Regions from separate parts of the Homo sapiens genome. Here all the other regions are linked to region 1. The links come from fine-mapping of genetic effects on gene expression. A gene starts in region 1. Each other region holds a variant in brackets. All regions are shown on one strand. Distances are between the middles of the regions.

Evidence for each region.
Region 2: its variant is fine-mapped to the expression of SMU1 in transverse colon (GTEx, PIP 0.97). The same link has a PIP of 0.9 or more in esophagus muscle.
Region 3: its variant is fine-mapped to the expression of SMU1 in stomach (GTEx, PIP 0.91).

The regions. Positions count from the first base shown.
Region 1 is chr9:33,070,724-33,080,671 of GRCh38, forward strand. It overlaps SMU1 (SMU1 DNA replication regulator and spliceosomal factor), which reads right to left and starts at 5,951. Exons shown (of 12, transcript NM_018225.3): 1 at 5,860-5,951; 2 at 2,873-3,083; 3 at 1,017-1,169. The coding sequence starts at 5,885. RefSeq lists enhancers at 5,813-5,962, 6,133-6,332.
Region 2 is chr9:32,937,367-32,947,314 of GRCh38, forward strand. It overlaps the pseudogene ASS1P12. Among named protein-coding and RNA genes, the nearest start is that of APTX, 59 kb to the right of the region's middle. The variant A/G (reference allele first, on the strand shown) is at 5,278.
Region 3 is chr9:33,094,952-33,104,899 of GRCh38, forward strand. It overlaps a transcript of B4GALT1 not described here. Among named protein-coding and RNA genes, the nearest start is that of MIR12117, 8.8 kb to the right of the region's middle. The variant AG/A (reference allele first, on the strand shown) is at 7,081.

The sequences.
Region 1 (9,948 bases):
AACAACATGCATGTAACTAGAGCTCATTATGGTAAGCGAAATAAGCCAGGCACAGAAAGACAGACTTTGCATGTTCTCATTTATTTGCAGGAACTAAAAATTAAAACATGGAGATAGAGAGTAGAAGGATGGTTGTCAGAGGCTGGGAAGGGTGGAGGTGGCGGGGGTAAGAAGGAAAGTGGGGATGGTTAATAGATACAAAAAATATAAAGAATAAATAAGAAATAGTATTTGATAGCACAACAGGGTGACTATAGCCAATAATAATTATACATTTTAAAATAACTGAAAGAATTGAATTGTTTGTAACACAAAGGATACATGCTTGAGGTGATGGATACTCCATTTACCCTCATTATGCACTGCATGCCTATATCAAAATATCTCATGTACCCCATAAATATATACACCTACTATGTACCCATAAAAAATTTTTTTTAATCCTTTTTCCTCCTATTTTGACAAACCTCTAGTAAAAGGCTGGGGGGGTGGGCAGGAAGAATGAAACCATACAGATAATAAGGTTTAGGAAGAATGAAACTATACAGATAATAACGTTTTGGAAGAATAAAAGACTATCATCATGCTCTACTGGTAAGCATAATCCGCGAAGAAACAAAAGCTTCTAGGGACTAAAAAGGCTAGAAGGAAACTACAATTGTTAGGGGCAAGACACACAAATGATCAGTGAACATACCAGCAGTCAGGCAGCACTTCGGGGAGGGCTAATGTGGAAATGACATCAGAATAAAATGTTCTGCTTTTTTTACTAACCAACACGCAATCCTCTAAACTGAGGTGTATAGAAGACTCAAATAATCAGAAAACTGAACAAAATTATTCTCTTTAACATACGCAAATTTCAGCCAACATATATAAACAGAGAAGCATCATTCTCAAAAATTAAATCAAAATCACAAAGAGTATACAATAAAATGGTAAAAAAAAAAAAAAAAGATCATGTTATTTCATTTCCAAAGTTAACAAAAAGTTCCTTTTCATTACCACAGTCATACCTCACGAGGATCAAAGTAAGACCTGGCCAAAAGGTTCTCCAGATGAATATATCGCTCTGGCTGTGTTTGTTTTAACATGATCATGGGATCAGTCTGTCTCAAAAGTGACCTGGCAGCACCCAATTCACGGAGCTCTATCAATTCCAGAACAACCTGGACAATTAAAAAAAAACAAAAAAAACCCCAGATGTTTCAACACACCGTCTTATTAATATTTTTCGGTAAAATATCTAACACAGATATGGCCTGTCAAAGGATTTCCAATACCAGGAAGTGCCCCTTTCCATTTTCACTAGCAATTTCAGGTGGACTTGGTGGGCTTGGTGGCTCATGCCTATAATCCTAACACTGTGGGAGGCCAAGATGGGCGGATCACTTGAGGTCAGCAGTTCGAAACCAGCCTGGCCAACGTGGTGAAACAGACTCTCTACTAAAAATACAAAAAAAATTAGCTGGGTGTGGTGGTATATGCCTGTAATTCCAGCTACTTGGGAGGCTGAGGCAGGAGAATTGCTTGAACCCGAGAGGCGGAGAGTGCAGTGAGCCAAGCTCATGCTACTGTACTCTGGCCTGGGCGACAGAGCGAGATCTGTCTCAATAAATAAATAAATAATAATTTCAATCCTTCAAACTCTATCCTTCATTTTTATCTACCAATCTCCCCTCCTCTCAGGCTTCTTGCTCAGAATGTAGATGCCAAAGAAAGCTAAAGATGGGAATATACCCATGGGCTCCAGAGAAACCTTTCTCCAGTTACCAAAATTTTCTTTGGGAATTATTGAACTCATACGGATTGTAAAGAAACAAACTGCCCAGACACGGCAGCTCACACCTGTAATCCCAGCATTTGGGAGGCTGAGGCAGGTGGATCACTTGAGGTCAGGAGTTGGAGACCAGCCTGGCCAATGTGGTGAAACCCCGTCTCTACTAAACACAAAACTTAGCTGGGCGTGGTGATGCACGCCTGTAATCCCAGCTACTCGGGAGGCTGAGGCAGGAGAATCGCTTGAACCCCGGAGATGGAGGTTGCAGTGAGCAGAGATCGCACCACTGCACTCCAGCCTGGGTAACACAGTGAGACTCTGTCTCAAAAAAAAAACAAAAAAAAAAACCCGTAAACAAAAACCAAAAACCAATTTCACTACTTTTACTTCAAATTACAATCTTATTTCCAGAAAGTCTACTCTGCTGTTTTATAATCACAAATTTGTCTGATCTTTGTCCTAGGTTCTTGGCTTGGAGCTTCTTGGAATTTGACCAGTGATAGGGGTATCTTTGTTACTCCTGGGCCCCTTGAATCACACCTGGGTTTGTGCAAAGGAAATGGCTCAGGATAGGTAGGAGCTAGTTATCAGAAAGACTAACTATGTGATTAGAAAGTTGAGGCTCTCTCGTGCCTGTAATCCCAGCCCTTTGGAAAGTCAAGGCTGGCGAACTGCTTGAGCCCAGGAGTTTGAGACCACCCTGGGTATTATGGTGAGATCCTGTCTCTACAGAAAAATGCAAAAATTAGGCAGGCGTGGTGGTGCGTGCCTGTGTTCCTAGCTACTCAGGAGGCTGAGGCAGGAGGAAGGATTGATCCTGGAAATGGAGGATGCAGCAAGCTGTGATCTTGCCACTGCACTCCAGAGTGGGTAACAGAACAAGATCCAGTCTCAAAAAAAGGAAAGAATTTTAATTTGGGAAATCCTGGATTTTCCAAGAAGGGAGAAAAAATACAATGTCAAGCCTTGCCATTGTTGTATGGGCTGATGCAGCCCTACCGTGCTTGAAGGAATGCTCACTGACGCTTTTTAGTTGGGGAGCTGGCCCACAACGAACCAACCCATGGGGATCAGCATCACCACCACTCTTACCTGTTCATAGAGGTCAATGAGGGTTTTGTCTGGCAATTTCAGAGACTGTATAGCCTGCAACACAGTATCCCAATGGCCACTGTTAATGTCAGCCACAAAACTCTCAATGCTGTCCACAGTATTCAGAGACACAGTAGTCTCCTCCTGCAAGGTGGCTAACGCCCGATGTAAACTGTTCTCCTTCAAGTACTGCATAATAAGGCGGATCACACTGAAAGAAAACAAATCGTTCAGCTCAGGGATTCTCACTCACCAGAGGTCAAAAATAAAGCCTATCAAGCTCCTACTCAATCATCTTCCTTTCACTACTATTTCTTTATCATGTGAGTAAAATTTTCCAAAATCACAGAATCTAAATTATAAGGGGACCCCCCCTAACCATAGAGACAGAACTGGGGTTCAAGGAAAGGAAATCATTTGCCTAATGTCTCAGTCAGCTAGAAAGGGAGTTGGTGTCAAGGTGACTATCTTATTTCCTAATCCAGAGCCTAGTTTCCTATTCATTCTTGTAATTATATTGTAGCACACTTCACTGAAATACTTTAAATGACTAGACTAGTTATTTATACAAAATAATCTAAATGAGGTTGGGCATGCTGGCTCATGACTGTAATCTCAGTAATTTGGGAGGCTGAGGCAGGAGGATTGGCTGGAAACCAGGAGGTTTGAGACCAGATCAGGCAGCTGTGAGACCCCATCTCTACAAATTTTTTTTTAAATTAGCCAAACATGGTGGCATGTGCCTGTAGTCCCAGCTACTTGGGATGTTGATGTGGGAGGATCCCTTGAGCCCATGAGTTCAAGACCAGCATGGGCAACATAAGAAGACCCCTTCTCTACACACACACACACACAAAAAAAAAAATTAGCTAGGCATGATAGTGTGTGCTTGTGGTCCCAGCTACCTGGGAAGCTGGGGTGGGAGGATTGCTTGTATCCATAAGGTTGAGGCTGCAGTGAGCCGTGATCATGCCACTGCACTCTAGCCTGGGAAAGAGAGCAAGACCTTGTCTCAAAAAAATAAATAAAATAAAACCTATGAGGTAAGTTTACTTTTATCCCCAATTTACAGATGAGGATTTGATCAGATAATAGAGATAATAAGTGGAAAAATCAGGACTCAAACTGGCAGTGTGGCTCTAGAGCATGTATTCCTGAGGAGAAAGCAAACATCCTCTTTTTTTTTTTTTTTTTTGAGAAATGGTCACTTGCATCGCTCAGGCTGGACAGAATAGTGGCGTGATTGTGGCTGACTGCAGCCTGGGCCTCCTGGGATCAGGTGATCCTCTCACCTCAGCCTCCCGAGTAGCTGAGACCACAGGCATGCACCACCACACTGGCTAATTGTTGTATTTTTTGTAGAGACGTGGTTTTGCCATGTTGACCATGCTGGTCTCAAACTTCTGGGCTCAAGTGATCCATCCACCTCAGCTTCCCAAAGTGTTGAGATGACAGGTGTGAGCCACCGCACCTGGCCCCTCTTCTTAAAAACAACTATAGGCCGGCCGCGGTGGCTCACGCCTGTAATCTCACCACTTTGGAAGGCCGAGGCGGGCAGATCACAAGGTCAGGAGATCGAGACCATCCTGGCTAACACGGTGAAACCCCGTCTCTACTAAAAATACAAAAAAATTAGCCGGGCATGGTGGTGGGCGCCTGTAGTCCCAGCTACTCGGGAGGCTGAGGCAGGAGAATGGCGTGAACGTGGGAGGCGGTGCTTGCAGTGAGCGGAGATCGCGCCACTGCATTCCAGCCTGGGTGACAGAGTGAGACTCCGTCTCAAAAAAAAAAAAGGGAACTGATTGCTGCTACCTGCAGTAGTCTTTTTCTCTCATGGCCCCTTTATGAGGTATGCAGGTATCCAGACTTAGACCCCTGTTATTCTGCTATGATACTATCTTCCTTAGCACATGTCCGTTGACTTCCATTTTACACTCCCAAAATAAGTCATCTCTCTCCTCAAACAGCTCACATTTGACATAGCCAAAATCAAATTCCCTACCTTCAAACAGAAATGAATACATAAAGAGCTAGAAGCTTTGAAGATAGTCTGGGATTTGAATCAAAGTTATGTGACCTTGGACAAGTAGGTTAACATCATTTCAGTATTTGCTGAATGCATAAACCTCCCTTCCTCCTATGAAAAGTCTCCAAAAAAGGTCCTCTCCCTCCCTTACACTCAGACACAATTTTTATGTCTGTTAATTTAATTATTATTAAGTGTTGGCAAGGACAGGTGGAGGATGGAGTTCTGGAAAAGCACACTAAGGTCTTCTTTAGTCACTAATTCTCATCCCCTATTCCTTGAAAATTTTTCTTTCTAGCCCAGTCTCCAGTCTGTCTCTCCCCAGACAACCCAAAATTCCGTGCCAGATCGGGCCTGATAGTTGTTCATTCATTCCAAAAGCTAGTTGTTCATTCATTCCAAAAGCAATTAACTCTTCCTCTAAGGTATGCTAGACACTGAGACCACAAGGAAAAGGAGCTCCTAGGCACCGACAAAGGCTAGTTTGGGGTGAGGTTATCAAACAGTGACAATACTGAGTGATAAACGCTAGGCAGAGAAAAGCAAAGGGGCCGTATAAGCAGAGACAACGAATCACATTGCATAAGCTGGACAGGGAGAGAAGCAAGGCTTAAAGAGACCTATCCCCTTGCGCAGATAATTAGACTGGAGTCCAGAGTGGATCCTTAATTTGGTCAATCACAGCGCGCCAGCAGTCGGCCAAGGACAGAACTTAGGTCTGCAAGGTGTGTTTTCCCCACCCGTGCCACCTCCCTCGAGGTTTTGGGCTTCACGTCTGAGAGCTGCTACTTTCCTGTGGGCCCACCTCCGAGGTAGCGAGATCCAAGATGCTTCTTTGGGGGCAAGGAAATGGCCCTCCACTCCCTGGCCTCTCGGATGCCTTCTCCCGAGTACCCTCCGCCCCACACCCTTAACCTCCAGGCCCCCGGCAAGGCGCGAACATCCCCACCGCAGGACTCACTCCGAAGATTCGATTTCGATCGACATAGCCGTATCTCTCCGGGAGCAGGCCCCAGCTCTCCCTCAAGGCCAGTCGCGCAACACACCAACGACACCTCCGGCGGACACCTAACGTCACTTCCGCTTGGGTCGGCGTCTGGCTCCCGCTCTGGAGATAGAGTGAACGAAGAGTAGGGGCGAGGTTCGCGTAGGGGCGGAGCCCTCAGGGGCTGTCAGAGGGCGGAGTTTATGCCCCTGCCCCAGAGAAATACGCATCAGGAGGAAGACTGTTTAAAAGCAGGCCGGAGCCGGGTGCGGTGGCTCACGCTTGTAATCCCAACACTTTGGAAGGCCGAGGCGGGCGATCACCTGAGGTCGTGAGTTCGAGACCAGCCTGACCAACATGGAGAAACCCCCGTCTCTACTAAAAATACAAAATTAGCCGGGCGTAGTGGCGCATGCCTGTAATCCCTACTCGGGAGCCTGAGGCAGGAGAATCGCTTGAACCCAGGAGGCGGAGGTTGCGGTGAGCCGAGATCGCGCCATTGCACCCCAGCATGGAAAACAAGAGCGCAACTCCGTCTCAAAAAAAAAAAAAAAAAAAAAAGAAAGATAGAAAAGAAAAAGAAAAAAAGCACCGGGCGCCATACAGCTCACAAATGTACTGAAAAAGAAAAGCGCTGGGGCGGAGCGCGGTGGCTCGCGCCTGTACTCCCAGCGCGCGAGTTCGAGACCAGCCTGGGCAACATGGTGAAGCCCCGTCTCTACTAAAAATACAAAAAATTAGCCGGGCGTGGTGGCGGGGGCGCCTGTAATCTCAGCTACTCGGGAGTCTGTGGCAGGAGAATCGTTTCACCTCTGGAGGTGGATGCGGTGAGCCGAGATCACACCATTGCACTCCAGCCTGGGCAAGGAGAGCAAAATTCCGTCTCAAAAGAAGAAAAGAAAAGTAGTGGTGATAAGATTGTAGTAAGAAAAGCAAAGAAAAGAAAGAAGAAAAGAAAGAAAAGAAAAGAAAGAAAAGAAAGAGCACTGGTTTGGAAAGATTGCTTTTTTTTTGAGACGGAATCTCGCACTGTCGCCCGGGCTGAAGAGCACAATGGCGCGATCTCGGCTCACTGCAAACTCTGCCTCCCGGGTTCAGGAGATTCTCTTGCCTCAGCCTCCGGAGTAGCTGGGATTACAGGTTTCTTGCCATCACGCCAGGCTAATTTTTTGTATTTTTAGTAGAGATGGGATTTCACTATGTTGGTCAGGCTGTTCTCGAACTCCTGACCTCGTGATCCGCCCGCCTCGGTCTCCCAAAGTGCTGGGATTACAGGCGTGAGTCACTGCGCCCAGCCAATGTTGCTTTCGTTTGATGTAATTAGTTGATTAGATTTAAGATGAGGCTGAATATGCAATACCTGATGGGATATTAATACATTCAAAACCAACATAACACTAGCCAAAATTTATAGGAAGAGTTAATTGAGGATTTTGGTTGGTTGGTTGGTTTTGCGTTTTTTTGAATCAAGGACTCGCTTTGTTGCCCATGCTGGAGTGCAGTGTCTCGATCGTGGCACACTGCAGCCTCGACCCCTCCAGCTCAAGCAATCCTCCCACCTCAGCCACCCAAAGTGCTGGGATTACTGGCATGAGCCACCACGCCCTGTCACGGGACTTTAGGTCAAACACATTATTACATTTGTAGTGACAAATGAAATGTAGAGATATCAGTGAACTTCATACATAAAACCTATTTTTAAATATTTTATTGCTGTTGTATATAAATTGTAAAAATTATTTGCAGCACAGTAATAATAAATCTGGCCAGGCGTGGTGGCTCACGCCTGTAATCTCAGCACTTTGGGAGGCTGAGGCGGGTGGATCACCTGAGTTCAGGAGTTGGAGACCAGCCTGGCCAACATGGTGAAACCCCGTCTCTACTAAAAATAAGAAAATTTGCCAGGCAGATAGGTGTGCATCTGTAATCCCAGCTACTCGGGAGACTGAGGCAGGAGAATCCCTTGAACCCGGGAGGCAGAGGTTGCAGTGAGGAGAGATCGAACCACTGCACTCCACCCTGGGTGACCGAGTGACCAAAAAATAATAAATAAATAAATAAATAAAATAAATCTGTGTTCCGAAATTACATATTGAAATGATGTATTTGTAGATTTCCTGATGGCTTTCAGTCTTATCTGATTCTGTGCCTAAAGGTCTGCCATACAACTTGTCCATAACCTCTTAAATACTGCTTCTTTTGTCAAATCATCCTCTATTTCCTATCAATTCTTGAAGGACATGGTCTCCAAGGTTTCAAATGTTTTAGAGTCTCCATGCTTGCCTTGACATGTAGTGAGATATCAACATGGGTTATATGGTTTATGAGATACTCCTTCACTATTCTATCCCATAACAGCACAAAATTATTATAACTTCTTCCTTGAAAAGAAGACCCAGCTCATCGCAACAATAGCATATGTCCTCATTTTCTCTACCTAGTACTTGTCATGTTACTCTTAAATTCAGGTTACTTCTCTATTTTGTTTATACAAATAAATCTTCTCTATGATTACTTAACACCAGGTTTTATTCTAATATCCACCACACCTCTGCTTTCATTTTGAATGGAATGGCTTCTCTTCTTATGACTCCTATTACATCCAAGCTTGTTCATTATTTATAGATGTGAGCATCTTATTGCTTCATTATGTCTTTTGTAGTAACACCCTAGGATTTTGATATTGAACTACATATTACTCTATTTTATAACAAATTAATTTATTTTTATTTTTCCTATATATTTAGCATTATATTGATTTTTTCATTATCTGCGTAAGTAGATTTTTCTTTCTTTTTTAAGACAGAGTCTCACTCTGTTGCCTAGGCTGGAGTGCAGTGGCACCATCTCAGCTCACTGCAACCTCTGCCTCCTGGGTTCCAGTGATTCTTCTGCCTCAGCTTCCCAAGTAGCTGTGATTACAGGCACGCACCACCATGCCCAGCAAATTTTTGTATTTTTAGTAGAGACGGGTTTCGCCATGTTGGCCAGGCTGGTCTCGAACACCTGACCTCAAGTGATCCGCCCGCCTTGGCCTCCCAATGTGTAAGTAGATTATATTACTTATGAATTTCAGAACACTAAAAGGGATGTTACAAGAGATTTGGAGGTCCTTGAGCCTAATAGTATTGAGAACATGTTAAAGAGATGCCTATTAGTCATTGCTCCAAAATAATAACTCCAATCCCTTAATACTTTTCTTACTCTCCTTTTTTAACCTTGGAAAGATCTTTTAGAAAATAATATATTTTGTGATAAAGAAACATTTACATAAGTTCAACAATTCTTTTGGTTTCACTTCAGTTTCCTTTTATTCAGTCAATTACAGGTACAATTAAATTGATTAATTTTTCTCTAAAAAATAGCACATATTGATTGGCCAGGTGTGGTGGCTCACACCTATAATCCCTGTACTTTGGGAAGCCAAGGTGGGAAAATTGCTTGAGACCAGGAGCTCAAGACAAGGCTGGACAACATAGCAAGAGACCCCTTCTTCACAGAAAAATTAGCCTGGCATGGTGGCACACGCCCGTAGTTCCAGCAACTTGGGAGGCTGAGGCGGGAGGATTGGCTTGAGCCCAGGAGTTTGAGGCTGCAGTGAGCCATGATCGCACCACTGCGCTCCAGCCTGGGAGACAAAGTGAGACCCTGTCTCTAAAGAAAATAATAATAATAATAAAATTAAAATAGGCTAGGCATGGTGGCTCACGCCTGTAATCCCAGCACTTTGGGAGGCCAAGGTGGGTGGATCATCTGAGGTCAGGAGTTCGAGACCAGCCTGGCCAACATAGTGAAACCCCCCCATCTCTACCAAAAATACAAAAATTAGCTGGGCATGGTGGCACATGCCTGTAATCCCAGCTACTCAGGAGGCTAAGGGAAGAGATTCGCTTGAGCCCGGAAGGCGGAGGTTGGCCTGAGACGAGATTGCACCATTGCACTTTAGCCTGGGTGACACAGTGAGACTCCGTCTCAAAAAATAAAAATAAAAATAAAAAAGAAAGAAAGAAAACGTGGGGCAGTGGAGGGTGGGGAGTGTAAACTATACTCTGTCTGCATCACATG
Region 2 (9,948 bases), 130 kb before region 1:
TCAAATCAGGCAGATCAGAACCTCCCTGGAATTTGAACTCCAAATGTAGGGAAACAAAATTGAAAATAGTAAGAGCTCACTCATCCTTATGTTTGCCCTAAAGAGGCTGTATTAGTCCATTTTCACACTGCTGTAAAGAACTGCCCAAGATTGGATAATTTAAAAAGGAAAGAGGTTTAATTGATCATAGTTCAGCATGGTTGTGGAGGCCTCAGGAAACTTACAATCATGGTATGGTGGAAGGCAAAGGGAAAGCAAGGCACCTTCTTCACAAGCCAGCAGGAAGGAGAAGTGCCAAGTGAAGGGGGATGAGTCCCTTATAAAACCATCAGATCTCATGAGAACTCACTATCATGAGAACAGCATGGGGGAAACTGCCCCTATGATTCAATTACCTCCACCTGGTCTCTCCCTTGACACGTAGGGATTGTGGGGATTATAATTCAAGATGAGATTTGGGTGGGGACACAAAGCCTAACCATACCAGAAGCTGTCCCATGATTACTGATCCCCAGGTCCTCAGAGTTGCTCCAAATTTCTGATCCCTCCAAAGCCCCTCTCTGAATTCCCTCTCTTCCACATTTCCTTTAACTCTATGAACCATCCCTTCATCCTACCAATACATTTTCAACTTAAATAAGCCAAAATTGAATTCTGTGGCTTTCAACCACAGAACTGTATCAGGTGCAAGTCCCTTTCCCATTTTCTATTCCCCAAGGAGACAAGAAAGAGTACTAAAGATGCCTTAAAGCAAATAACAAGGCATGCCATCACTCAAGAATTTAGTATCTAAATCCACTTCATGAAAATGACTGTTACTATGGCAACTTTTCCATGTGTATTATTCAGTGACTTTATAATGTATTAACATTTTAAGGTAAACTAAACTGTATTGGCTTATTTGGCCTTGAATCCTTTTTAAATATAGATTGTTTTATCTCATAAAAGTTATCAGAGCCTCTAGTCCACGATGGCAGAGTGAGCCAGCAAATTTACTTTTCCCTCTAAAATTGCTATGAAAATGACACTATAAAGGAAAGCCCTCCATGCTTACCTCCCACCACCACCATTCTAGACACACACACACACACACACACACACACACACACACAAAACCCACTACAGTCCCAGCTCTTGGCATCAAAATCTGTTCTGATAATCCAACACGGTTAATATGGGCAATACCCCTCCCATTAATTGATAAATTAAAAATAATCAAAGGAAAATCCTAATTTTTTAAAATAGAATCTGACAAGTTGCATAGAACATTCATCTGGAAGAGTAACTATTTGAGCTAATAAAATGTTTTCTGTTTGTTTTGTTTGTTTTGAGATAGAGTCTTGCTGTGTTGCCAGGCTGGAGTTCAGTGGTGCAATCTCGGCTCACTGCAACCTCCGACTCCCGGGTTCAAGCGATTCTCCTGCCTCTGCCTCCCAAGTAGCTGGGACTATAGGCCATGCCCAGCTAATTTTTGTATTTTTAGTAGAAGCGGTGTTTCACTATGTTGGCCAGGCTGGTCTTGAACTCCTGACCTTGTGATCCACCCGCCTCAGCCTCCCAAAGTGCTGGGATTACAGATGTAAGCCACCGCACCCGGCTGAGCTAATAAAATGTTTAAGAAAAAGAACACTGTTCAGATAGGCCGTGACCATAGAGAAAGTCAAGGTAGGTCACAGTAGAATAGTCCAAAGAGCCCTGGGAGGTGGAACATAAGGAGGGATGCTCCTATTTCTCATCATTATGAGTCACATGAACTTCCTTATTATCTGCATCCAGGACAAATTCAGCCAGAATCTGGGGCAACAAATTGTTCACAAGACCATATGGGACTACTGAGCACCATGTAACTCATTCATGTGCCACATAATTCTGAGATTCACCCACTCACTACGTCAGAGAAGAGCTTCATCCTTCCTGAAGAAACCAATCAGGCAGTCAAAGAAGATGAATAAAGGAGGAAATAAAGAAAGAGGTGAATCCATATATCCTGGTGTCAGTGATGTTTTTACATCTTCAGAGAACCTAAAGAGAATTTTTAATTCCAGCAATAGAGAAAAACAGAAGATTTTGCATAATGCAGGTCCAAAAAGAAGTGTAAAAAAAAAAAAAGTTTGAACTACAAGTAGCAATCCTATTAATTCTAGAATTTCCACACAATGCAAGACCTAGAAGGCATGATACTGGGCACCAAAGAAATGGAAAGGTGATGAGTAGGAAAGGTACAGAAGAAGCTATAGTTGAGAAGATAGAGAATGAAGCATGCACCTGCTTGCCTCATCTTCATGGGGGTACTGTATTAGCTTGGCTAGGTTAAACGGAAGTAGGAAAGACAAAAGTAGGGAGGAAGAGGAGAAGAAAAGGAAGGGAGAATAAAGAATTTCTACAAGGCAGGCGTGTTGGCTCATGCCTGTACTCCCAGCTACTCAGAGGCTGAGGCAGGAAGATTGAGCCTAGGAGTTCAAGACAAGTCTGGGCAACATAGTGAGATCCTATACCTAAAGTTAAAAAAAATAATTTCTAGAAAATTATAGTAATAAAAATTGTGATATGAGTTGAGTAATTGCTCAATGGAACCAGAACAGGGAGTCCATAACAGACTCATATGTATTGGAATTTAACTTACCATAAACATGGCATTTCAAAGGAATGAGAAATGAAGCCTAGTTTAATAAATAAGTTGTAGCAATTAGGTAAAAATTGAAAAAAATAAAGATGCATCCCTACCTCACACTATACCATCCAAAAAAAAAATGCCAGATATGATAAAGACTTCAAGTCAAAAGACAAAAGTATAAAATTACCAGAAAAAAATGTAAGAACATATGGACAGGAAAGGCCTATTTAAGCAAAACACAAACATCCAGAAACAATGAAGAAAAAAAGGAAAGAATGCCTAATTTAGCTACATCAGGGTCCCCAACCCCCAGACTGCGGGTCTGTGGCCTATCAGGAACTGGGTCTCACAGAAAGAGGTGAGGCAATGGAGCATTACTGCCTGATGTCAGATAAGCAGCCACATTAGATTCTCATGAGAGTGTGAACCCTATTGTGAACTGTGCATGCGAGGGATCTAGGTTGTGTGCTCCTCATGAGAACCTAATATCTGATGATCTGAGGTGGAACAGTTTTATTCTGAAACCATCCATACCCCACCAACCATCACCACCAGTCCATGGAAAAACTGTCTTCCACAAAACTGGTTCCTGGTAGGAATAAAAAGGTTGGGGACCACAGAGTTGCATAATTGTTAAACTTTGTATAATGAGAGAAATCTTCAAATGAAGTTAAAAGATTGAAACATCTAAATCTGTAACATATTTGCAACATAAGTAATAAATAAGTCAAAAAGAAAAAGAGAGGCAACTCGATTTTTTTTCTTGTGCAAAGGAACATTGGCAGAGACTTTTCAACATCTCCAATTTTCATTTTGTCCTCCTTCCATAATAATAAAAATTTTAATTGGACATGTAGTTGCCCAAAATAAAGTGCATATTTCACAGCCTCCCATAAAGCTTAGTCACATGAGGCCATGTGGAGTCACATGGGCTTTCTGCCCACAGAAAAGTAAGGAGAGAGTCATGCGGAATTTCCAAGAACCTTCTTAACAGATAATCTGTGTGAGCCCTTGACACCCTTCATCTGTTCATTCATCCTGCTACCCAGAGGGCAGATGCTTCTGTCTTGGACCTTGAGGGCTGGAAGAAGAATGCAGTAGGATACAAGGCTGCAGAGGGGGCAACAGTAGACCAGGGAGACCAGGTATGTCAAATTGAGCGATTCGGACCAGACCCTGTAATCAGAAGTCTCACTCAATCCTGTTACACCCAATGTCTCCATTTTTTTTTTTTTTTTTTTTTTGAGACCGAGTTTCGCTCTTGTCACCCAGGCTGGAGTGCAGTGGCACAATCTCAGCTCACTGCAACCTCTGCCTCCCAGGTTCAAGAGATTCTCCTGCCTCGGCCTCCCAAGTAGCTGGGATTACAGATGCCTACAACCACACCCAGCTAATTTTTGTATTTTTAGCAGAGACAAGGCTGGGCATGGTGGATGTGGTTCATGCCTGTAATCCCAGCACTTTGGGAGGCCAAGGCAGGTGAATCACCTGAGATCAGGAGTTTGAGACCAGCCTGGCCAACATGGTGAAACCCTGTCTCTACCAATGTCCCCTTTCTATTGAAAGATTCTGTAGCTTGCCCTTTACTATCCTGAAGTGAAAATCATGGATCACGTAACCTATCTGCACTCCTAATTTTTAATAATACAATATCTTTAATATAAAGGAAAAAAAGCAAAGTAATTAAATAAAATACTATGCTCAGACACACCCATACCTACTAGAAAAGAAATCCTACTAATCTCCAAACGGCTGTCCCCATCCCCATAAACACTTCTGGAAGCAATAAAGAGCCAAGGAAAGCTTTTCAAGCAGAAAATAACTTCATATCTTAGCCCAAGTTCCCTAGAAAACAGAGCTTAAGGGTAGGATTAAGGTGCTAAAATTTTATTGGGAAGTAAAGCCTCAGAGCAGTGAAGTGAAGGAAGAATTGAAAACAAATGCAACTGCTTACTGCTTTATGACAAGCCATAAAGAGGCAAAGCCCATTTTAGCTTTACTCAAAAGCTAAAAAGTACACTGCTTGGCCACACAAGATGTCCCTGGACAGGGTATGTGGGAAAACCGTGCCCCGGACAAGTCCATGGAAGGGACTCCTTTCTCCTGCTCGTCAAAGTTGCCCCAGAGGATTTAACCCTGACTTCTTTACCCAGAAGTAGGGGAGAAGCCAAGAGTATGGTTGGTCGGCCTCAAGTGGAATTGCAGGGGCTTGCATAGAACAATAATCCAAGGGTCTGTGAAATTGATCAAGCTGAGAGAATCTACAGAGGTAGGGAAGATGTGTCTGATATACATGGTTAGATTTGCGTTTTCAAAAAAATAATCCCTAGAAGCTGTAGAGTGTGGATTTGAAGGGGGTAGAAGGTGGCAACAGCAGGGAGACAAAAAGACCAGATAAGAAGCTGGGCCAGGCATGGTGGCTCATGTGGGTAATCCCAGCACTTTGGGAGGCCACAGTGGGTGGATCACCTGAGGTCAGAAGTTCGAGACCAGCCTGGCCAACATGGTGAAACCCCTGTCTCTACTAAAAATACAAAAATTAGCTGGGCATGGTGACACACATCTGTAATCCCAGCTACTTGGGAGGCTGAGGCAGGAGAATCACTTGAACTGGGGAGGCAGATGTTGCAGTGAGCTGAGATCACACCACTGCACTCCAGCCT[A/G]GGTGACAGAGTGACTCTGTCTCAAATAATAATATTAATTAATTAATAATTCAGCAATCACTGCAGAAACTCAACCCTGTCAACTGAGCCAAATTTCTGAAAAGAAAATAAATTGTTACTTATTTTTAAATAAAAAAGAACCTTATTTACTGTTGGGAGAAAAAGCTGAGTGTCCGGAGAGAAGCTGAGGCAGGGCTTGCATGTCTGCTAGACTTGCTTGGCTCCTTGCTTCTAGCACTCCCATTATCTCAAGCCGCCATATGTTTTTCATTCACTTGATACACTGTTTCCTTTCAACCCCCACATCCTCACCACCTGTTTCTTTGTTTGAGCACCACTAAATAGTGTGGGCTCCCAAAGCTCTGGGCCTTCACAGGCTCCACACTCAGGATGGCCCCCTGGTCCGACTTTCTCTCTCAAACTGTCTTTTTCTCATTCCTTTGACTCAGCAGGACTTCGTTGCCCCCACGACCTGGTGTTGGGTCTGATCACCCCAACATTTACAGATAACAAGTAAAAAATAATCATAAGTAAACAGACAACATGCTGCTTAGAAATGGAAGAATCATGCTTAGAAATGGAAGAATTGTTCTTAGAAACACTGGAAAGGATATCATCAGGGTTTTCTAGCGCAGTCAGTAAAGTTCGGATCAGAAAACTTCTCCTACTCCACATGCCCTTATCACACTCCCACTCAGTGTGTAAATGATTGCCTGAAGTGTGGACGGTGTGTGCCTGTATATCAAAGATATGAAATAAACATCAGTAGGATCCTTATGATGCACTCAGAGAGCAGGGGTAGTGTCTTTAGCTAGAGGAGTAGCTGTAACTTTGTCTCCGTTTGTTATGTTTGAAGGCATGTAGTTTGCTCTCTGATATACCAGAATCCAATTAACTCAAATGGTTTATAGACCACACAAATACGAGGCAGTACCTGCTGTCCAATGCCTACCACGCTGCAGGTACTCAACAAATGTTAACAAAATCCATTTGTTTATTTATGCAACCAACATTTATTGAATGCCAAATATGTGCCAAACACTGTTCTAGACATTGGAGATAGAGCAAACACATTTTTAAAATTTCTCTTTTTTGTATTATAAAAGTATTAAAGATTGTGCACAAAATGAAGCAATACAGGGATATATTAAAAAAAAAAAAAACTTAATCAGCCCCGTCCATACCCCACATCTTCCAAACCTACCCCTCTGAGGTAACCAATTACTTTTGTTTTTGTTTTTTGAGACAGGCTCTGGCTGTACTGCCCAGGCTAAAGTGGAGTGGCATGAACATGGCTCACTGCAGCCTTGATCGCCTGGGTTCAAGTGATCCTCCCACTTCAACCTCCTGAGTAAGCTGGGGCTATAGGCACATGCCATCACACTCACCTAGTTTTTTAATTTTTGTAGAGACTGGGTCTATGTTGCCCAGGCTGGACTTGAACTCCTGGCCTCAAGAGTTCCTCTTGCCTCCGCCTCTCAAAGTGCTGGGATTACAAGCATAAACCATCATGCCTGGCCCAATGTATTTTTTTCTAATATTTTTAATTGACAAAAATTATATAATTTATTGTGTACAATATATTGTTTTGAAATATGTATACACTGTGGGGTAGCTAAATTGAGCTTATTAACGTATTACTTCACATACCTATTTTTTTTGAGGTAAGAACACTTAAAATCTAATCTTTTAGCAATTTTCAAGAACACAATGCATTGATATTAACTGTATTCACCATACCGTACAATAGATCTCCTGAATTTATTCCTCCTAACTGAAATTTTGTATCCTTTGACCAACATCTCCCCAACGCCCAATTCTCAGCCTGATAACCACTATTCCACTCTCTGCTTCTATGAGTTCAACTTCTTTAGAATTCACGTACAAACGAGATTATGCAGTATTTGTCTCTCTGTATCTGACTTATTTCACTTAATATAATGTCCTCTGGATTCATCCAGGGTGTCACAAATGGCAGGATTTCCTTCCTTCTTGAAGCTGGATAGTATTCATATATAGCATTTACATTTTATTAGGTATTATAAGTAATCCAGAGATGATTTAAAGTATATGGGAGGGGGCTGGGCATGATGTCTCACACCTGTAATCACTGCATTTTGGGAGGCCGAGACGGGAGGATCACTTGGGACTAGGAGTTCAAGACCAGCCTGGCCAACATGGTGAAGCCCCGTCTTTATATAAAAAAATAAAAGTATATGGGAGGATGTGTGTAGGTTATATGCAAATACTGTTATCATTTTATATCAGGGACTTGAGCATCAGCAGATTTGGGTATCCGCAGGGTGTTCTGGAATTAATCCCCTACAGATCCCAAAAGATAACTGTGCTTGGTCACTTGTTTGTCTTTTTTTGACAAATGTCTATTCAAATCCTTTGACCATTTTTTAATTGCATTATTTGTTTTCTTACAATTGAGTTGTTTCAGTTCCTTATTATTTTAGATATTAATCCCTTATCAGATGTATGGTTTGCAAATATTTTCTCCCATTCTGTAGGTTGTCTCTTAACTGTGTAGATTATTTCCTTGGCTGTGCAGAAGCTTTTTAGTTTGATACAATCCCATTTGTCTATTATTACTTTTGTTGCCTGTGCTTTTGGGTTTATATTTAAAAATTCAGGCCTGGGTACCGTGGCTCATGCCTCTAATCCTAACACTTCAGGAGGCCAAGGCAGGAGGATCTCTTGAGGCCAGGAGTTTGAGACCATCCTGGGCAACATAGCAAGGCCTCGTCTTTAAAAAAAATTAGCTGGGTATAGTGGTGCGTGCCTGTATTCCTTATTACTTGGGAAACTAAGGCAGGAGGATCCCTTGAGCCCAGGAGTATGAGGCTGCAGTACAGCTATGCTCCTGCCACTGCACTCCAGCCTGGGCAACAGAGCAAGACCCTGTCTCTGAAAATAAATAAATAAATAAATTTTTAAAAATCTTTAAATAGATTTTATGTTTCCAAGTCATTAAAGAACATGAGATGTCTTTCCATTTGTTCAGATAACATTTATAATTTTAATTGAGCTTTTATAACTTTAAATAGGTCTTATATCTTATTAATTTTACTGTCAAGGTGAAACTATTTTGATTTCTGAAATTTGCTTTAAAGTAGTACTACAGTAGGTAAGGTGGAGAGGCAGGATGAAACAAGAAGGGCAGAATATTGACGATTGTTGAAGCTGGTTATGGGTACTATTCTCTGGGTTTTTGTGGATGGTTTGGTATTTTGAAATTATACTCCCTGCTCTGTCGCCTGCCACCGCTCCCTGAGCCCGAGTGGTTCACCGTACCATGAAGACAGATGGCAGATGCCAGGAACTCGAGCCTCCAATCCCAGATGCTATGTCCAGCAAAGGCTCAGTGGTTCTGGCCTACAGTGGCAGCCCGGACACCTCTTGCATCCTCGTGTGGCTGAAGGAACAAGGCTATGACATCATTGCCTACCTGGCCAACACTGGCCAGAAGGAAGACTTCGAGGAAGCCTGGAAGAAGGCACTGAAGCTTGGGACCAAAAAGGTGTTCATTGAGGATGCCAGCAGGGAGTTTGTGGAGGAGTTCATCTGGCCGGCCATCCAGTCCAGCGCACTGTATGAGAACCGCTACCTCCTGGGCACCTCTCTGGCCAGGCCCGGCATCGCCGGCAAACAAGTGGAAATCGCCAAGCAGGAGGAGGCCAAGTATGTGTTCCACGGCACCACGGGAAAAGGAAATGATCAGGTCCGGTTTGAGCTCACCTGCTATTTGCTGGCCCCCCAGATAAAGGTCACCGCTCCCTGGAGGATGCCCGAGTTCTACAACCGGTTCAAGGGCTGCAATGACCTGATGAAATAGGCAAAGCAACATCGGGTTCCCATTCCAGTCACTCCCCAGAGCCCGTGAAGCATAGACGAGAACCTCATGCACATCAGCTATGAGGCTGGAATCCTGGAACCCCAAGAACCAAGTGCCTCCAGGTCTCTACATGAAGACCCAGGACCCAGCCAAAGCCCTCAACACCCCTGACATTCTCGAGATCAAGTTCAAAAAAGGGGTCCCCGTGAAGGTGACCAACGTCAAGGATGGCACCACCCACCAGACCTCCTTGGAGCTTTTCGTGTACCTGAATGAAGTTGCAGGCAAGCACGGCGTGGGCCGTATTGACATCGTGGAGAACCGCTTCATTGGAATGAAGTCCTGAGGTATCTGCGAGGCCCCAGCAGGGACCATCCTTCACCACACTCATTTAGACATCAAGGCCTTCACCATGTACCGAGAAGTGCGCAAAATCAAACAAGGCCTGAGCTTGAAATTTGCTGAGCTGGTGTATACCGGTTTCTGGCATAGCCCTGAGTGTGAATTTGTCCGCCACTGTAATGCCAAGTCCCAGGAATGAGTGGAAGGGAAAGTGCAGGTGTCTGTCCTCAAGGGCCAGGTGTATATCCTCGGTCGGGAGTCCCCACTGTCTCTCTACAACGAGGAGCTGGTGAGCATGAACGTGCAGGGGGATTATGAGCCGATTGATGCCACGGGTTCATCAACGTCGATTCCCTCAGGCTGAAGGAATGTCATCTCCAGAGCAAGGTCACTGCCAAACAGACCCCTGTACAATGAGGAGCTGGGGCTTCCCCAATTTGCAGATTTTTTCCCCCAAGTACAGGTGCTAATTGTGATAATTTGTCATT
Region 3 (9,948 bases), 24 kb after region 1:
AAGTCTTCTCACGTCAAAGCCACTGATGATGACTGAGGATGACTGAGGAGACAAATACAAAGCATTTAGGGCTGGGCGCGGTGGCTTACGCCTGTAATCCAGCACTTTGGAAGGCCGAGGCAGGTGGATCATGAGGTCAGGAGCTCAAGACCAGCCTAGCCAACATGGTGAAACTCCGTCTCTACTAAAAATACAAAAATTAGCCGGGCATGGTGGCATGCGCCTGTAATCCCAGCTACCTTGGGAGGCTGAGGCCAGAGAATAGCTTGAACCTGGGAGGCAGAGGTTGCAGTGAGCCAAGTTCATGCCACTGCACTCCAGCCTGGGCAACAGAGCAAGACTCCGTCTCAAAAAAAAAAAAAGAAAGAACTTAATAAAATTATAGATTCAGACTGAAATATACCAATAGTTACAGTGAATATAAATGGAAAAGAAATTCTCCAGTTAAAATACAAGAATTAGTAGACAGGTTTAAAAAACAAACAACATGCTATTTACCAGAGACAGAGGTAAGGCATAAGGATACAGTAAGGCATAAGGATACAGGTAAGGCATAAGGATATGGAAAAAAGGATACAGTAAAAGGACTGAGAAATATAAAATTGGAAGACTCTAAAAGAAAGCTGATATAGCTGTATTTTATATATATATGTGTGTATATATACGTGTATATATATGTATATATATAGTGTGTGTATATATATATATAAAATAAAAGGTTGGTTTCCTCCTTCCTTTTAAAGTATATAATTCAATTTTTTTTCAGTATGTTCAAAATATTATGCAGCCATCACCACTATATAATTCCTAGATAAAATTTACTTTAAGGCAAAAATTCTTTTTTTTTTTTTTTTTTTGAGACCCAGTCTCACTCTGTTGCCTAGGCTGGAGTGCAGTGTCACGATCTCAGCTCACTGCAACCTCTGCCTCCCAGGTTCAAGCAATTCCCCTGCCTCAGCCTCCCGAGTACCTGGGATTACAGGCGTGTACCACCATTGCCTGGCTAATTTTTGTAGTTTTAGTAGAGATGGGGTTTCCCCATGTTGGCCAGGCTAGTCTCAAACTCCTGACCTCAGGCAATCCGCCCACCTCTGCCTCCCAAAGGGCTGGCATTACAGCTGAGAGCCACTGCGCCCGGCCAAAAAGTCTTAAACCCAGAAGATACAACAATCCTAAATTGCTAAATCTCTAATAACATAGTCTCAAAGCACAAGACGTAAGAACTGATAGAACTACAAAGACAAATAGAAAAAGCTACAAGCCTAGTGGGAAATTTTCAACAAGCAAAGAGTATAGAAGATTTGATTTCAAAATTCATTAAGGTAGGGCCGGGCATGGTGGCTGATGCCTGTAATCTCAGCACTTTGGGAGGCTGAGACGGGCAGATCATGAGGTCAGGAATTCCAGACCATCCTGGCTAACACAGTGAAATGCCGTCTCTACTAAAAATACAAAAAATTAGCTGGGCGTGGTGGCAGGTGCCTGTAGTCCCAGCTACTCGGGAGGCTGAGGCAGGAGAATGGCATGAACCCGGGAGGCGGAGCTTGCAGTCAGCCGAGATTGCGCCACTGCACTCCAGCCTGGGAAACAGAGTGAGACTCCATCTCAAAAAAAAAAAAAAAAAAAAAAAAAAAAAAAAAATTCATTAACGAAATAGAAGATTTGAACAATACAATTAACAACTTTGACCTAAGAGACATACACAGAACACTGTCCCCTAAAATTCTGACTACTGTAGTCCCCCTCTTATCCACAGTCTCCTTTTCCATGGTTTCATTAACCCATGGTCAACTGCAATCTGAAAATAGGTAAGCATAGTACAATAAGATCTTTTGAGAGAGACATTTTTAGTAGAGACAGAGTTTCACCATGTTGGCCAGGGTGGTCTAGAACTCCTGACCTCAAGTGATCTGCTCACCTTGGCCTCCCAAAGTGCTGGGATTACAGGCCTGAGCTACCATTGCTGGCCTTTCTGTTGTTGTTTTTAGACAGGGTCTTCTCATTCTATCACCCGGGCTGGAGTGCAGTGGTGTGATCATGGCTCATTGCAGCCTCAAACTCCTGGCTCAAATGATCCTCCTGCCTCGGCCTCCCAAAGTGCTGGGATTATAGAAATGAGCCAGTGTGCTTGGCCACAAAACTTTTTCCTTTGAACATAATTATGAGATTGAAATAAAAAGGAAAAAGACTTTTTCAGCGATATGAAAATCTAAGGAGGATATTATGAGTAAGGAAAATTACCTACTAATTTTGGTCATGAACATAGATGTAAAAATCCTAAATAGTAGATTAGCCAACCAAATCTTGCTATAGATAAAAAGGTCACTACATAATGAGTAAATTGTTTCTATTCTAGGAATGCAAGTTTGGCTTAACACTTGAAAACCAATCCAAGAAATCTACCCCGTTAACAGAATAAGGGAGAAAAATCACGTGATCATTTTAATAGATGCCGAAAAGCATTTAATAAAATTCAACATCCATTCATGATTAAACCAAAACAATACAAAACAAAAAACTTAACTCTTACCAAACAAGGAATAGAAGGGAATTTTCTTAGTATAATGAAAGTCTACATAAAACTATATCAAATATCATTTTTTTTTTTTGAGATGGAGTTTCACTCTTGTTGCCCAGTCTGGAGTGCAATGGTATGATCTTGGCTCACCACAACCTCTGCCTCCTGGGTTCAAGTGATTCTCCTGCCTCAGCCTCCCGAGTAGCTGGGATTACAGGCATGCACCACCACATCTGGCTGATTTTTTTGTATTTTTAGTAGAGACGGGTTTTCTCCATGTTGGTCAGGCTAGCCTCGAACTCCCGACCTCAGGTGATCCACCTGCCTCGGCCTCCCAAAGTGCTGGGATTACAGGCGTGAGCCACCGTGCCTGGCCTTCAACTATCATTCTTAACTATATCAAATACCCTTCTTAATGGTGAAACTTTAGTTTTCCTTTAGAGATCTAGACTTAGAATAAATGAAAATACCTCTCTACTACCGCTATTCAACATTGTAATGAAAGTCCTAGACAGCACAGGAAGGTACGAAATAAAAGCTTTGAGATTGGAAAGGAAGAAACATCTTTTTTTTTTTTTTTTTTTGAGACGGAGTCTTGCTCTGTTGCCCAGGCTGGAGTGCAGTGGTGCGATCTCGGCCCGCCACAAATTCCGCCTCCCGGGTTCAAGTGATCGTCCTGCTTCAGCCTCCCAAGTAGCTGGGACTACAGGCGCGTGCCACCATCCGTGGCTAATTTTTGTATTTTTAGTAGAGATGGGGTTTCGCCATGTTGCCCAGACTGGTCTCAAACTCCTGAGCTCAAGCGATCTATTCACCTTGGCCTCCCAAAGTGCTGGGATTACAGGCGTGAGCCACCGCACCCGGCCGGAAGAAACATTTAAAGATGACAGGAAATCTTCGTAGAAGATACTTAGAAAATCCAAATGAATGTGGAGAAAATTATTAGAATTAGTTATCAAGGTTACTGAATACAAAGTCAATATACGAAAATTGTGTTTACATATATGAGCAACAAAAGAAAAATATGTTTCAAAAGGCTATCATTTATTTAAAAATAGTGAAAATAGACTGGGCGCAATGGCTTACGGCTATAATCCCAGCACTTTGGGAAGCTAAGGCAGGTGGATCACTTGAGCCCAGGAGTTCGAGACCAGCCTGAGCAACATGGTGAAAGCCTGTCTCCACAGAAAATAGAAAAAAATAGCCAGGCATGGTTGCATGTGCCTGTAGTTCCAGGTACTCAGGAGGCTGAAGTGGGAGAATCACTTGGGCCTGGGAGGCGGAGGTTGCGGTGAGCCGAGATCATGCCACTGTACTCCCCGCTGGACGACAGAGCAAGACTCTGTCTCAAAAAATAAAAAAGAGTAAAAATATATACAATACCTGGGAAAAAATAATAAAAATGTATAAGATCCCTGTGAAGAAATGCAAGAAGACCTAAACCAAAAGAGGATTCTATCTTGTTTATACGTTGAAGGTTTGATGTTTTAAAGATATCAGGTCTCTTATAGTGATCCATAAACTTACCAGCATTTCAATCAATATCTCAAAAAGTGGGGTGATTATGGTGGGGTTTTTTGGTGGCTCTTGAGAGGCTGATTGTAAAGTTCTTATGGAAATGCAAGAGCCAAGACACTCAATAAAAAAAGAACAAGTTTCAGTAAAAAGGTACAGTATGGTAGTGGGACAACGATAGATAAATAAAGCCATGAACTAGAATAGAGTCCAGGGACAGACCCTCACAGGAAAGGACAGTTGCTTTATGACCAAGGTGGCATTGAAGTACAGTGGAGAAAGGACAACAGCTTTTCAATAAACAGTACTGGGATAATTGTGGATGTCCACAAAAAAGCAATTTGCCTACAGTTCCCCAGTGACTATGTGGTGAAGCCAAGTCTTTATTATTTTTTTATTTGTCTTGAGATAGAGTCCACGCCTGGCTAATTTTTGTATTTTTAGGACAGACAGGGTTTCAACAAGTTGGCCACGCTGGTCTCGAACTCCTGACCTCAGGTGATCTGCCTGCCTCGGCCTCCCAAAATGCTGGAATTACAGGCATGAGCCATCATGCCCGGCCTGAAGCCAAGTCTTTAAACCCAAACGTATCTGGCTCTAAAGTCCATACTCTTTACATTTGGCCAACCACCATGTCACGTCCCAAAGCTGTGGTGAGCAACAGGCCTCCCAAGCTATGGAGGTGCTCTGTGACCCAGTAAATGTTGTGAATACCTGCAGAGGAGATAATTACTGCCTTCCAGGTTGGCAGGGTCTCCTTGGCCCATAGCCCTAAAGCTCCTACTGGGTTCCCCTCCTCTCTGGTAAAGTACAGCTGGCACCTGACCACCAAGTCCCTTTGAAAAAGAGTGGCCCTCTGGTTGACTCTGGCAAGGGGGACTTCAGCAGGGGGCTGGCCTTACAGCCAAGGTACTCAGGACTGAATACCCCCAGGGCGCTGTGAGAGGCTGATGCTCTGAGGTTCCCTTGGGGTCAGCCTCAGGCCAGAATTTGGTCACCAGAACTAGGTCACCAGAGACTCTTGGGACAAGTTTTGTGTTTTACTTTTTAAGCTGAACTTTGTGTTTTTGTGGCTTTGGTTCAGGGGTAGAACCCAGCTGAAGAAGGAAAAGCAGTAGAGCCTTCCAGGAAAACACGCAGAGGAGGCCTAGTTCCCTTTGGCCTCTTGGCCATGCCCTGGGGGATCCCTCGGAACTACCAGGGACTGCCCTTCCTCCATTCCTCCCTTCCCTAGTTTCCTGGATTGACAAAGTAGACCTTTGTTTCTGGCTTTGAGACCTTGAGGGAGGATAAGAGTCCTGTCTTTAGCACCCTAGCAGTAACTATAATCAGGCTGAAGAGTTTTCTTAGAAATACAAAATGGCAGCTTGGAAAGGCCCTCGTAGCCTCCTGACCCCGTTTCCAGATGGGGAGTAGAGAGATGATCTTGTTACAGGAAAAGGATCCCAATCTAGACCCCAAGAAAGGGTTCTTGGATCTTGTGCAAGAAAGAACTTGGGGCAAGTCCATGGAGTAAAACGAAAGCAAGTTTATTAAGAAAGCAGAAGAATAAAAGAATGGCTACTCCACTGGCAGAACAGCGGAGTGGGCTGCTTGACTGAGTATACTTATAGTTATTTCTTGATTATATGCTAAACAAGAGGTGAATTATTCGTGAGTTTTCTGGGAAAGGGGTGGGGATTTCCCCCAGAACTGATGGTTCCTCCCCTTTTTAGACCGTATAGGGTAACTTCCAGACATTGCCATGGCATTTTTAAACTGTCGTGGCACTGATGGGAATGGGAGTGTCTTTTAGCATGCGAATGCATTATAATTAGCATATAGTGAGTGGTAAGGACACCAGAGGTCACTTTCATCACCATCTTGGTTTTGGTGGGTTTTGGTTGGCTTCTTTACAGCATCCTGTTTTATCAGCAGGGTCTTTGTGACCTGTATCTTTTTTTTTTTTTTTTTGAGACGGAGTTTCACTCTTGTTGCCCAGGCTGGAGTGCAATGGTGTGATCTCGGCTCACTGCAACCTCCACCTCCCAGGTTCAAGCGATTCTCCTGTCTCAGCCTCCCGAGTAGCTGGTATTACAGGCGCCTACCACCATGCCTAATTTTTGTATTTTTAGTAGAGATGGCATTTCGCCATGTTGGCCAGACCGGTCTCAAACTCCTAACCTCCAGTGATCCACCCGCCTCGGCCTCCCAGAGTGCTGGGATTACAAGTGTGAGCCACCACGCCCGGTCTGTGACCTGTATCCTATGCCAACCTTCAGTCTCATCCTGTGACTAAGAATGCCTAACCTTCTGGGAATGCAGCCCAGTAGGTTTCAGCCTTATTTCACCCAGCCCCAGTTCAAGATGGAGTTGCTCTGGTTCAAACGCCTTTGACATTCTGGCCTTGGTCACCCAGGGGTCAACCCTAGACTCCCATTACAGCACTTCCTCAGTTCCCTCAACTAATTGCACTCCCTCAAATTGAGGCATTCCCAGCAGTATGCTAGGATGTGTACTGACATCAGGGTTGGAGAGGGGCCAGGGAAAGGCCTGGCAGGCCTTGTCTCCCACAAAGAAAACCCTTGGAACAGTCTCCCGGAGGTTGTGGGCAGTGAACCTGCACGACAGGGTAGACCCAAGACAGGAAGAGTGCCCATGGATCCTGGGAGCCAGCAGGGCCAAGATCTGCCAGCCAAATTCACAGAGGCCACCAAGCCCAGCGCCCTTGAGACACACACAGCATCTGAGTCAGACACAGAGCATTCCAAGCTGGTAGGAATGGCCCAAGCTGACATATGAGATGTCATGCCCAACAGACAAATTGTTCATGGGGAAGATTTCTCCTGTCCTCAGCATGCAATTCTTCTCTCCCCATTCCATAGTCTCATTGTCACTAGGTCAGTGTCTATCCAGAGCAAACCACATGGAACACAAATCATTGAGGCTTGGAGTTGATGAAGTTAAACCCAACAGCCTGCTTTTTAGCAGTCTTGATTCAGCTTGTCATCAAAACAAACCACAGCCCCTGGCTTTGCTTAGGAAAATGCCTTTGGCTGAGAACTTAC[AG/A]GGGGGTCTTGGAATAGTGTGGCAATTGCTCTCCCTTGGGAAGAGGGTGTACAGTCGGGGAGGAAAGGTGCCCAGAAGAGAAAGGGAGAACTAAGCAGGCATCTAGGCCTTATTGGGGAATCCTAGGTCTCCACCTGGACTTCTGGGTCCCCGCAGTCTTCAGACAGACACTGTGCTGAGCCCTCCTGAGCACCAGGTGTTGGCCCAGGCAGGGCAGGTCCAGGAGGATTAAGAAGCTGTGTTGTCCATGAAGCAGGAACTGGTTGTTGCTGCCCAGAGTGATGCCTCAGAGGCAGAAAACCCCATGTCTTCAGGTCCACTTGCATCCCCAGCCCTCAGGAGTCTCCCTTCTTCCCTCTTCCCCACGCCTCAGGCCTCCTTGCATCCTCATGGATTGTTTCAGTGTTAACCATTCCTGTACATCTCCCAGACCGTGGTGACACCAATGCAATGCCCCTGGTATACGGAACTGTCGCTGTCAAGTTTACTAGGTTCCTAAGTCCTCTAAAACAGTAAAGGGAAAACAAAACAAAACACAAACAATCTCATCCCAAAGGTGCTCTTGGCTCCAGCCCTGGATCCAGGCTGTACTTCTCTCGGCAGTGCTGCTGAGGCCACAGCTTCCCTGGCTGGGGCAAGGAACCTCACAGCCTCCATCGCCCTGCTCCCACACTGTGTGGATGAGGAGCTGGGTCATGGTCCAGTGGCCAGAGCCCTAGCCTGGGACTCAGGAGGTCTGTGTCAGACCCAAACTCTGTGTGACCTTGTGCAAGTCATGTGAGCTCCCTGAGCCTAAGTTTCCCATGCTGGAATTATTGTAAGGAGCAACACACGGTACGTGGGAAAGCGCCGAGTGTGCTCATGGAGGGTGAACACGGGTGAGGGGTTCACGAGTCCACCTGCACCCTCCCTGCCCCACAGGCCCGCCTTGGAGGAAGGTGGGAACTAAGAGCTGGGCCATGGAGCTGGCCTTTCTCCTGTGCTTCTGTCATCAGGGGAGACCAAAGTCACTGTGGCCACCGCAACAGGACACAGGGAGCACTCCAAAGGCCCCGGCGACGTTTGATTGTCCAGCATTCCACATCTGTCCCAGAAATGAGTTTCCAACAGCTCCAGGCTCAGGTCTGTGTCAAAATCCAGATGTCAGGGCCTCCCTCTGCAACAGGGCTCCTAGATTCTGGAGTCAAAGATCTACTAGAAAAGGGGTCCCCCTTGTCGAGCTCTGATCAGGCACAAGAGGCGAATCTCGCCCCTCCAGAGCCAAGACAGTGTTCCTCTCCTACCGCATTCTTTCCATTCTTTAGTGTCTTGAGGCTTGACAGTTCAATTGCCCTCACAAAAGAGTGGCAAGAAATGTTGTAACTATTTTTCTAAACCTGAGAGAATTGCCAGAAGCCCCCCCAGCCTGTGTTGAGCTCCCATTCTGCCTTCTCAGACCTTCCTACAGCCATGCCATTTCCCACCACCTGTGAACAGAGTTCAGGCCTCCACCATTCCCCCAGGGGAGGAACCCTGCATCACCCTTCCAAGACTGGGGGACTTATGGGGAATGCAACTCCTCCCAGAAGACAACCCAGCATGTCCTCTCAACAGGGCCAACATTCTGAACAAAGGCCTCAGCCCAGGGTGGGGCGGGGACGCTTAGAACAGGGGCCTGGCCCCAGGCTATGTAGAGAAGGAAAATCATCTTCAATTTTTTGCTCATGCATCTGCTCCCAGAAACAATTACAGAGTAATTTCTGCACTAAATTATTCATACATTTCCCTGCCTCATATGGAAAGACCATTCTGTAGTTTCCTTTGTTTCCTTAGGCCTCTTTCCAATCGATAAATATAGATCCACTTCATCATTCTCAATGGTTGCATAGTACTTGATTGTTTGGATGTACTTCATTTTACTTAGCACAGTCCCCCGTTGACGGTGGCTTCTCATTTTCCAGGGCTACAAACAGCACTAGGGCGAACACTGACGCACATACATCTTGGGGTGTGACTTTGTTTTCTTAGGATGAATTCCTAGAAGTTGACTTGTGAGGTCAAAAGATAGGTCCACTTTTAGGATTTATTTCTCTATAGTCCACTCCCAGAATGGGTGTGGTAGTACCCTCGCCAGTACCAAGTCCTGTCTCTCCCAAGTGTCCTGCCCACTCTCCAATCCAGGGTCTAACATGGAGTTCAGGCTCTGCTTCCTGACACCAGGGGACCCTCCTCTCCTTCAAGACATAACCTATCTAGCTGACTCCATTTTCACCCCCAGGGATAATCCAGCCCCCAGCTTGTCATTTCTTCCTCTAAAAAGCCTCCAGCTCAGCCCCTAGTTTCCACCAACAGTCAGTGGGAACCAAGTGGGCACCCTGGGAGTAAGAGGCTCCTTGCTCCCAGTCCTGAGATCTTGACTGAGTCCAGGCTTCAACTTCTCCACCTAAGCCCCACCTGGCAAAAGGACGGTTGTACCTATGTCATAGCTTTGCCACAGCCCAGACTCCTTAGGGGAGGACAGCATTTGTCTCGAGAACAGGTAGCCGCTGAAAAGCCAGTCACTGGGGTCAAGGTCCCCAGCTGGATTCAGCAACCAGGCTGAGTCCTTATGACTGGCCAATCCTCCTCAGGTGGCACAGCCCACACAGCCAGCACGTCTCACGCTCAAATCTCCAGGAAGATGCTGGGACTAACCACCATGCGCTGCCACCTCCAGAGCAGAACAGACCAGGCGAAGCCTTCACCACAGGAGTCTTCTTATTTTTTCATACTGTGGTAAAATACACATAACAGAAAATGCATCATTTTACCTTTTTTTTTTTTTTTGAGACAGTCTCACTCTGTTGCCCAGGCTGGAGTGCAGTGACGTGCTAAGTAAATGAACTGCA